Linked DNA regions of Homo sapiens: region 1 is reported to be linked to region 2. Evidence: microRNA targets listed by miRTarBase, many of them from high-throughput screens and not tested one by one. Region 2 holds a microRNA gene; the other region holds the end of a gene's coding sequence.

Evidence for each region. Region 2 holds the annotated microRNA hsa-miR-6085 (AAGGGGCUGGGGGAGCACA, at 1,486-1,504, shown strand). A microRNA usually pairs through its seed, bases 2 to 8, with sites in the 3' UTR of a target mRNA and lowers its output. Matches are read on the target gene's strand: a 7mer-m8 pairs with bases 2 to 8, a 7mer-A1 pairs with bases 2 to 7 and ends in A, and an 8mer does both.
Region 1: miRTarBase lists PKD1 as a target of hsa-miR-6085. Seed matches in the 3' UTR shown: 7mer-A1 at 2,853-2,859.

The regions. Positions count from the first base shown.
Region 1 is chr16:2,086,492-2,090,497 of GRCh38, forward strand. It overlaps PKD1 (polycystin 1, transient receptor potential channel interacting), which reads right to left. Exons shown (of 46, transcript NM_001009944.3): 45 at 3,794-4,006; 46 at 2,217-3,703. The coding sequence ends at 3,236. TSC2 (TSC complex subunit 2) reads left to right here. Exons shown (of 42, transcript NM_000548.5): 38 at 241-380; 39 at 1,372-1,450; 40 at 1,557-1,648; 41 at 1,736-1,834; 42 at 1,955-3,000. The coding sequence ends at 2,119. MIR1225 (microRNA 1225) reads right to left here and starts at 3,793; the gene lies at 3,704-3,793.
Region 2 is chr15:62,341,626-62,346,136 of GRCh38, forward strand. It overlaps MIR6085 (microRNA 6085), which reads left to right and starts at 1,404; the gene lies at 1,404-1,513. RefSeq lists an enhancer at 3,407-3,907.

The DNA of each region.
Region 1 (4,006 bases), not on the chromosome of region 2:
GCTCCCCACGCCTCAGGTTCCGAGCCTAACAGCGTGGGCATGGAGGCAGTGATGGGGCTGGTGGCTTTGCGTCCCAAAGCCCTGCCCCTGGGGAGAGCCGAGGACCACTGGCCAGGCACCAGAGGACGTGGTCCCCGCAGGCCCCCAGAGCCCCTGGAGTAATCAGGAGGTGCCCCAGTGCAAGGCACAGAGGGCCTCAGCACTGGCCCCACAAACCCATCCGGCCCTGCTCACCCTCAGCCGTCTTCCACATCGCCACCCTGATGCCCACCAAGGACGTGGACAAGCACCGCTGCGACAAGAAGCGCCACCTGGGCAACGACTTTGTGTCCATTGTCTACAATGACTCCGGTGAGGACTTCAAGCTTGGCACCATCAAGGTGAGTGAGGGGCCGTCAGTGAGGCTGGGCCCCAGGCAGGTGCCCACTGCTGTGTCCCGGGTTGGTGGCAGGTCCTCCTCCCTGAGCTTCGGTCACGAGGAGCAGGAGGAGAGGCCGCAGTGCTCAGGGCCCCGTGGGCACGAGCTTCACCCCGAGCCTGCGTTGTGTCCTCTGTGCCCTGAAGCCTGTGGCGCCTGCTGCTGAGTGTCTGTCAGGAGTAACTGGCAAGTGCAGACTGGGTGTGCTGGGTGGGCACAGTGTAGTTGGTGCTTCCTGTCTGTCCGGCGCGGCCCTTGGGCCCCCACCATCTCCCCAGTGGCAGCTGTCAGGCTGCTCAGTTGGTTATCGCCACGCACCACTAGGCAGCAACCAGCGTCACCCTCTTCCTGGAGGTGGGCTGGGTCGGCCAGTGTCACAGCACGGTCCGGGTGAGCCCCAGCATGGCGGGGAGAGCTGGCATGGCCCAGGCAGGGCAGATAGGCTGGAGGCCTCACTCCAAGGGCCCCAGGATGCTGAGGCAGCCACTGAACCAAAACCCCGGGGCTGGTAGTCAGAGTCCAGGAGGGGCAGGAGCATAGGGAGGTGGGCTCTGCTAGATGCCAAGACAACCAGTTGGGGGGGGGGGGGCACCTGGGCGGCTGAGGAGGGTGTGGTGGTGCCGAGATGGGGTGCACGGCTCACTTCATGGCTGGGCAGACGGATTCGGACGTGTGGCTGCAGACACCCTGGGGGCCCCAGTGAGTGGAGGTGCCCCAGCAATTAGAGGTGTCTTGCCTGTGGCTGCAGCATATGTGGGTGCTGCGCCCAGATGTGGAGGGGGCTTGGCCTGGGGGAGGCCAGACAAACACAGCCCCGCTGCCAGAGGGGAAAGTTCAGGGGCAGATGCTGCCCATGGAGCTGACAGGTGTCTAGCAGTGCAACCAGGCAGTAGCCGAGATCAGCCTTCAGCACACGCTGTGTGCGGGGATGACCCTTTCTCTTGTCCGGGCAGGGCCAGTTCAACTTTGTCCACGTGATCGTCACCCCGCTGGACTACGAGTGCAACCTGGTGTCCCTGCAGTGCAGGAAAGGTAGGGCCGGGTGGGGCCCTGCAGTGCAGGAAAGGTAGGGCCGGGTGGGGCCCTGCAGTGTGGCGCCAAGAGCCCTGGGCCTGGCGTGACCACCAAGTCTCCCCAGACATGGAGGGCCTTGTGGACACCAGCGTGGCCAAGATCGTGTCTGACCGCAACCTGCCCTTCGTGGCCCGCCAGATGGCCCTGCACGCAAATGTGAGTGGGGGTGGGTCCAGGCGTGAGCTGGTGGGACAGGCCCAGGTGCCACCTGATAGTGAGCTCACCCCCTGCCTACGTCCCCAGATGGCCTCACAGGTGCATCATAGCCGCTCCAACCCCACCGATATCTACCCCTCCAAGTGGATTGCCCGGCTCCGCCACATCAAGCGGCTCCGCCAGCGGGTAGGGAATATGGGGCTCCCTCAGCGGGGTGTGCTGGCTGCCCAAGCTGTGGGGCGGGTGTGTGGGCAGAGCGGTTGCCACGCCTCCCAGACTTACTGCCCAAGCCGCCTCTGCCTTCAGATCTGCGAGGAAGCCGCCTACTCCAACCCCAGCCTACCTCTGGTGCACCCTCCGTCCCATAGCAAAGCCCCTGCACAGACTCCAGCCGAGCCCACACCTGGCTATGAGGTGGGCCAGCGGAAGCGCCTCATCTCCTCGGTGGAGGACTTCACCGAGTTTGTGTGAGGCCGGGGCCCTCCCTCCTGCACTGGCCTTGGACGGTATTGCCTGTCAGTGAAATAAATAAAGTCCTGACCCCAGTGCACAGACATAGAGGCACAGATTGCAGTCAGACAGCTCTTTTATTGACTTTGTCTGCTTGGTGCGGGGGTTGGGGGGGTGTCGAGGCTCTAGAAGCGGCCATGCCCACAGAAGTGGTACACAGAAGCAGGCACAGCCAGCTCCGAGGGCCTTGAGGCTGCCTGGGCCATACAGCACACTCGCGCGTGCGCGCGCGCACACACACACACACACAGTCACCTTCCTCCACCCTGGGAGCCAGCCCCCAGGAGGAGTCTTTTCCTCTAACCACCCTGGGGTCCTCTGACATGCCTAGTCCTGCTACTTGCCCAGACCTGATGCCAGCAGGCCTGGGCGCTGCTCTCTTGCTACCTGGCCTGGGGCAAGGGAGGATGACAAGGCCTCTGGGGTGATGAGAGTGCCTGGCAGACAGCTGTGCCCCCAGCACCGGCCCAAGGCCAAGCTCGCATCCAAGCAGCAGCCGGGCTGCCATAACGCCACCACACCTACCAAGCGCAGCAGGTGTTGGGGGAGGCCAGCTCTGGGCGCAGGCCCCTCAGCCCTAGTGAAAATAGTGACATACAAAAATATACACATTTTAACACCATATAAATTACTGACACGAGACACACAGTGAGACGGTGCAGGGAGTACGGTAGGAACTGGAGAGGTAATAACTTAGGGGCAGGGTGGCGGCGGTGCAGGCTAACCCTCCCTGAAGCCAGCAGCCTTAGCAGTGGGGGACATCTGCCCAGGGGGTGGGGCCGGGCACAGCCCGCTGTACCTGAGGACTCGGGGAAATAAATTAGCATCTCAGAGGCTAGAAACCGTCCAATACTGCTGTGTCCTTCCCAAGGGAGCTGGGGAGGGGACCCTGGGTCCTGGTTGGCCACACAGCCTCTTTAAAGTGCTGAAGCCCACAGACAGACAGATGCCCCTGCCTGCTCTCTGGGGAACCTACGTGCAGCCATTCTGCCTGGCCCTCGGCCTTGACAGCGGCAGAAAGTAATACTGAGCGGTGTCCACTCCGACTCCACGGCCCACCCCCGCCAGGAAGGAGGACTAAGTGCTGCTGGGGTGGACCTTGTTCTTGGCCCGAAGGGGTGTCCTGCTGGGGCCAGTGGCCAGGTCCACACCCCGACTGGCCCGGGCAAGGCGGCTGGGCAGTGCTGGCCGCAGGCCCGGGGATGGGCCACGGGAAGATCCGGCGGGCGCCCGGCTGCTCCTGCGGCCTTGCAGGCTGTGCAGCTGCTGCTCCAGCTGGTAGACGTCCTCTGTGGCCTGGTTGAGTCGGTCAAACTGGGTGAGCAGGGCCTCGAACACGGCTTGGAGGCGGGAGGGCTCAGGCTCACACCTTGTCCCCAGCCGGCCCAGGCTCACGCTCAGCCCATCCAGCTGGCTGGAGGAGGTGGAGGGGTGCGAGGCATCGGAGCCAGCGCTGGGTGGGGGCACATCCGGGGATACCTTGGAGCCCCTGGAGGAGCGAGAGGGCAGCGGCTCCATCCCTTCAAAGCGGACTTTGTGGCGGAACTGGGGGCGGCACAGGGGCTCAGTCAGTCCGGCTGCACCCTGGGCAGAGCCCAGGGCGTGTCCCTCTCCCCCCCACTGGGCCGTACCCACCTCCTTGACCTTGCTGAGGCCCATCCAGAGGCGCAGCCTGCGCAGGAACAACTCCACCATCTCGTAGTCCTGGGGCTCCCAGGCCGGCCGGTACAGCTCTCCACGCAAGGCGTGGTAGCGCCAGCGGAGAATAACAGCCCCCAGCCGTAGGGCGCCCCACAGCCGCAGTGCCCAGAGCCCCACACACAGCAGGGGTGACAGGTGCCAGGACTC
Region 2 (4,511 bases):
AATGCTACAGAAGTGATACAGCTCCTCGGCATATTCAATTCTGGCAGGAGAAGCTTTGAAGAAATCAGTTTAAATTCTTCTCTCTGGAGTTCTCCTTCCTTTCTGCCATTTGAGCAGATAGGAGATCCTGGCCTCCTTACCTCAGGGGAGATTTGAGGCAGGGCAGGAAGTGGTAGTCCCTTCAAGGCCCCTTCCTGGCTTTTATTTCCAAAAGCATAGGCTTATTGAGACAAGATAGACGGACTTTGAAGGAAGCAGAGGTGGGGAAAGAATTGTCTCAGACCCAAAGGAAATTCCTCCAGGGTAGAGACAGGAGAGAGAAGTGTGTGATTCCTACAAGGAAACAGGACCAGCATCCTATTCCCTGGCAGACCTCACGAGGTGGCAGGACCTCAGAGGGAAGCACTGTGCGATGCCCCAGGCAGGCTGCATCCTAGGCCTGGGCCCCAAACTTAACAAAGGCTTCTGTGCTCCCAGTAGAAGAAGGCCCAACACAGCTGGCAGCCCTGAAGCACGGTACAGACTAAGACAGTGGGGGCCTCCTCACTGCAACCTGGGGGCCTCACCAGTGCCTCGCTCCAAGAATGGCCAGAACCTCTGTGCTCCCCTAGGACATCAGCACAGCCCTAGCGATGACTGCCCAGCAGTCACCGGACTTGAAGGTTAAATTAAGTTTATTTAAGAAAAGCAGGCCGGGCGCGGTGGCTCACGCCTATAATCCCAGCACTTTGGGAGGCCGAGGCAGGTGGATCACAAGGTCAGGAGATCGAGATCATCCTGGCTAACACGGTGAAACCCTATCTCTACTAAAAATACAAAAAATTAGCCGGGCGTGGTGGCGGGCACCTGTAGTCCCAGCTATTCGGGAAGCTGAGGCAGAAGAATGGCATGAACCTGGGAGGCGGAGCTTGCAGTGAGCTGAGATTGCGCCATTGCACTCCAGCCTGGGCGACACAGAGAGACTCCATCTCCAAAAAAAAAAAAAAAAAAGCAAACACGGTCAGGCACGGTGGCTCACACCTGTAATCCTACCACCTTGGGAGGCCAAGATGAGAGGATCACTTGAGCCCAGGAGTTAGAGACCAGCCTGAGCAACATGGTAAGATTCCGTCTCTACAAAACTGCAAAAATTAGCCAAGTGTGGTGGTTCAAGGCTGTGGTCCCAGCTACTCAGGGAGCTGAGGTGGGAGGATTGCTTGAGCCCAGGAGTCTGAGGTTGCAGTGAGCCATGATTGTGCCACTGTACTCCCACATGGGCAACAGAACGAGACCTTGTTTCAAAAAAAAAAAAAAAAAGAAAAGAAAAGAAAAAAGAAAAAAAGCAAAGGAAATGCAATATTTCTCTTATCCCCAAATTTATGGCTGAAATTCAGGCCTGCTGAACACACCCCTCACTGCAGCCTGTCTACCAGGTGTGGGCCCAGCTTTACATAGTTCATGCTGAGGCCGGGATTTCATGCAGAAAACTGGTTGCAAAAGGTGCTGAAGGGGCTGGGGGAGCACAAGGGAGAAGGAGATCACCCAGACATCAGGATGCTGGCACCCGACCGGCCAGCACGGCACTGGCCTGTTGGAGGCTTTGCCACTGTGCTGATGGGGCTGCGCGGGGTCCTGATCGGGAACCAGGAGCCCACACCCTCTGGCTGCTGCCGTGGCCAGAGGTCCCTTCAAGGGGCCGGAGGCCACAGAGGCTCATTTCTTCTTCCTGCTTTCACCTTCTATCAGTGCCTCTCGCAGGCAGACCCCCAGCAGAAGCAGCTGGCAGAAGGAGGGTCTTGGAAATGTAGTCTGGCTTCTGCCTCCACTGCTGCACTCCAGGCCTGCAACACCGAGGACTCCGCAGAAGAGGAGAGAAGGACCGCCGGCCCTTCCACACACACCCGGTGCCATCTGGTCCATGGCCATTTGCCTTGGCTGCCAGGAAAGCACCCTCCAGTCAGCCTCTCACCTGCAGTGGAGGATGTAAATGTTAACCAAAACCAACAGAAAAGAATGGAATATGAGCCACACCTGCACAGGTGCGGGCCGGCTCTGGGCCACACATGGCCAAGGTTGGCCTTACTGTTCAAATTGTCGGCCGTGGAATCCATGGTTAGGAAAACCTGATGCTTTATTTTGTTTCTTTAGCAACCATTCAGGATGACTTCCTTACATTTTTTCAATTTCGATTTGTTCTATATTTCCTAGGAGATAGGGCAGAAATATTTGACTCGAGTGCTACACAAAACAGGAAATTGCATTTCACCGGGTTTTATTATTGCTGGTTCCCTTTAGCTCCTAGTGCACTTCCAAGTCAAATGTCTGCCTTTGAACAAGTGGCAAATTTAGAGGTAATTCAGAGACATTTATTGACAGCCTGCTGCTACTGGCCTGACCCTAAGAATTTAAAAAGAAAAGGAAAGAAGAGAAAAAGAAAAAATTGACACAGTCCTTATCTTTAAGTAGCTTACAGTTTTGTTTAGGAATGAGGCTTCTGCACATGCAACTTGAAGAAACAAATAGAAACAGTATAACATATTCTACAGTTTTGAAGTCTGTGATGCAGATTCTAAGGATGACAGAACAGCTATCTCTAAAAGGATTATATTTGGAAGGCAAGGAGAGGGCAGGGCAAGTTCCTAGCATGAAGAACTCTGACAGCAAAAGAGAGAAGTGAACAGGCACCTGGGAGCTGGCAGTAAGATTGCTCAGCTGCCTGAGGGAAATGCAGGTCATATGCTTGAGGGTCTTGAACATCAGTTTGAGAAAATTGAACTTCATTCTAAAATAGCCAAAATGTGGTCACGAAAGCAATGACAATTATAAACCATGTTGTCATCATTCTGGTTTTATAAAATATCACATATAAGCAGCCTAAAAGATGCAATATTTTAATCAACCTGACTCTTAAGTAATTAAGTTCTGTAAGACTAATAATTAGGTGTTTATAAAATACTGATTCGTTAGGTATTAGAGAGCAAATATTTTATCTTATACCTCAATGTATTTTTTTCTCCTAAAATACAAAGTATAAATATTCCCCACTCTGTGACTCCATTTGATTCCTGAGTAGGGGAAGTGAGATTAGATAGAGTGCTGTCCATTTCTATGTGGCCCCTAAATTCTTGAATTAGGAAAGCAAGGGATTCAAGCTCTAACTCAAAAATGTATCCCATTGTCTTCCGTCCCTGAATGCATATGGGGAGGGTTAAGAAAGCAAAGCTGGTCTATACCAAACTTTCCAGGGCTCCTTCCCTCCTTCCATTCCCACCCCCACTTTCCTCCCTGCTCCCCAGGGCCTGATCCAACCTGCCCGAGTAAATAGCCAAGGCCCCAATCCAGGTCAGCATCTTCTATCAACTGCTTTTAGGTGGGGAAGCTGATAATCAAGCCTTCAAACCCACCTGCTACTCAGGCGCGCGCGTGCGCGCACACACACGTACATACGCACGCGTGCGCGCGCACACGCACACACACACACACACACAGAGACACACTCGTTCTGTTGTTAACTTTGAGAAGAGTCCCTCTAGTGGCCACCTGTACAACACCCTGTGGGACCCAGATGTCGCTGAATGGCTGACATTGGTAGGTTTCCTCACAGTGGCTACCTACACTTTAGGTTTTCTGAGTGGGAGAGGTGGGAGAGGAAATGAAGAGTCGGCTTTAGCCAGATTGTGAGGACTTTTGTGGCTGGACTAAGGACTTTGGCCTTTTCCTTATAGCAATGTGAGATGTTGGGCATCCAAAGTTTTAGAGGAGACAGTGAAGTGATCAGTTCTCGATTTAATAAAGACAATGCTTGCCTTCAGTACTTGGGTGACTATCAGAGGGTAAATGATGATAATGAAGTAGCTAGCTTAAGACAGAAAAAGTAAGCCATAAAAATAAAATAAAATAAAATAAATAGGTCCGGGCGTGGTGGCTCAGGCCTGTAATCCCAGCACTTTGGGAGGCCGAGGAGGGTGGACCATGAGGTCAGGAGTTCAAGACCAGCCTGACTTAACATGGTGAAACCCCATCTCTACTAAAAATACAAAAATTAGCTGGGCGTGGTGGCGGGCACCTGTAATCCCAGCTACTCAGGAGGCTGAGGCAGGGGAATCACTTGAACTCAGGAGGTGGAGGTTGCAGTGAGCCAAGATCGCACCACTGCACTCCAGCCTGGGTGACAGAGCAAGACTCTGTCTCAAAAAATAAAAATAAAAATAAAATAAATGGAAACATCTTTGTATGTGCCTGGCTCAGTGCGAAGCTAAGAGGAAGGCGCTGCACCTCCTCATTTACCAGGCTGAGGGGGGTAGGTACAGAAACTGGCATAAGACCTCTTAAAATGCTATGCTCTCCACTGCCTCCTCAATCCCCAAGGACAGTGTGTCTCCTTCTCCATCACCGCTCTCCCACGGTTTGAGACAGGGACATCTGTGTAAATGGAGATCAAGGACAATTGAAAAGGGAAGAAAACAGGAAGTTACCACCAAAAGACACTGAGGACCATATAAATTAGGATTAGTAAGTTCATCTCAAAGAAA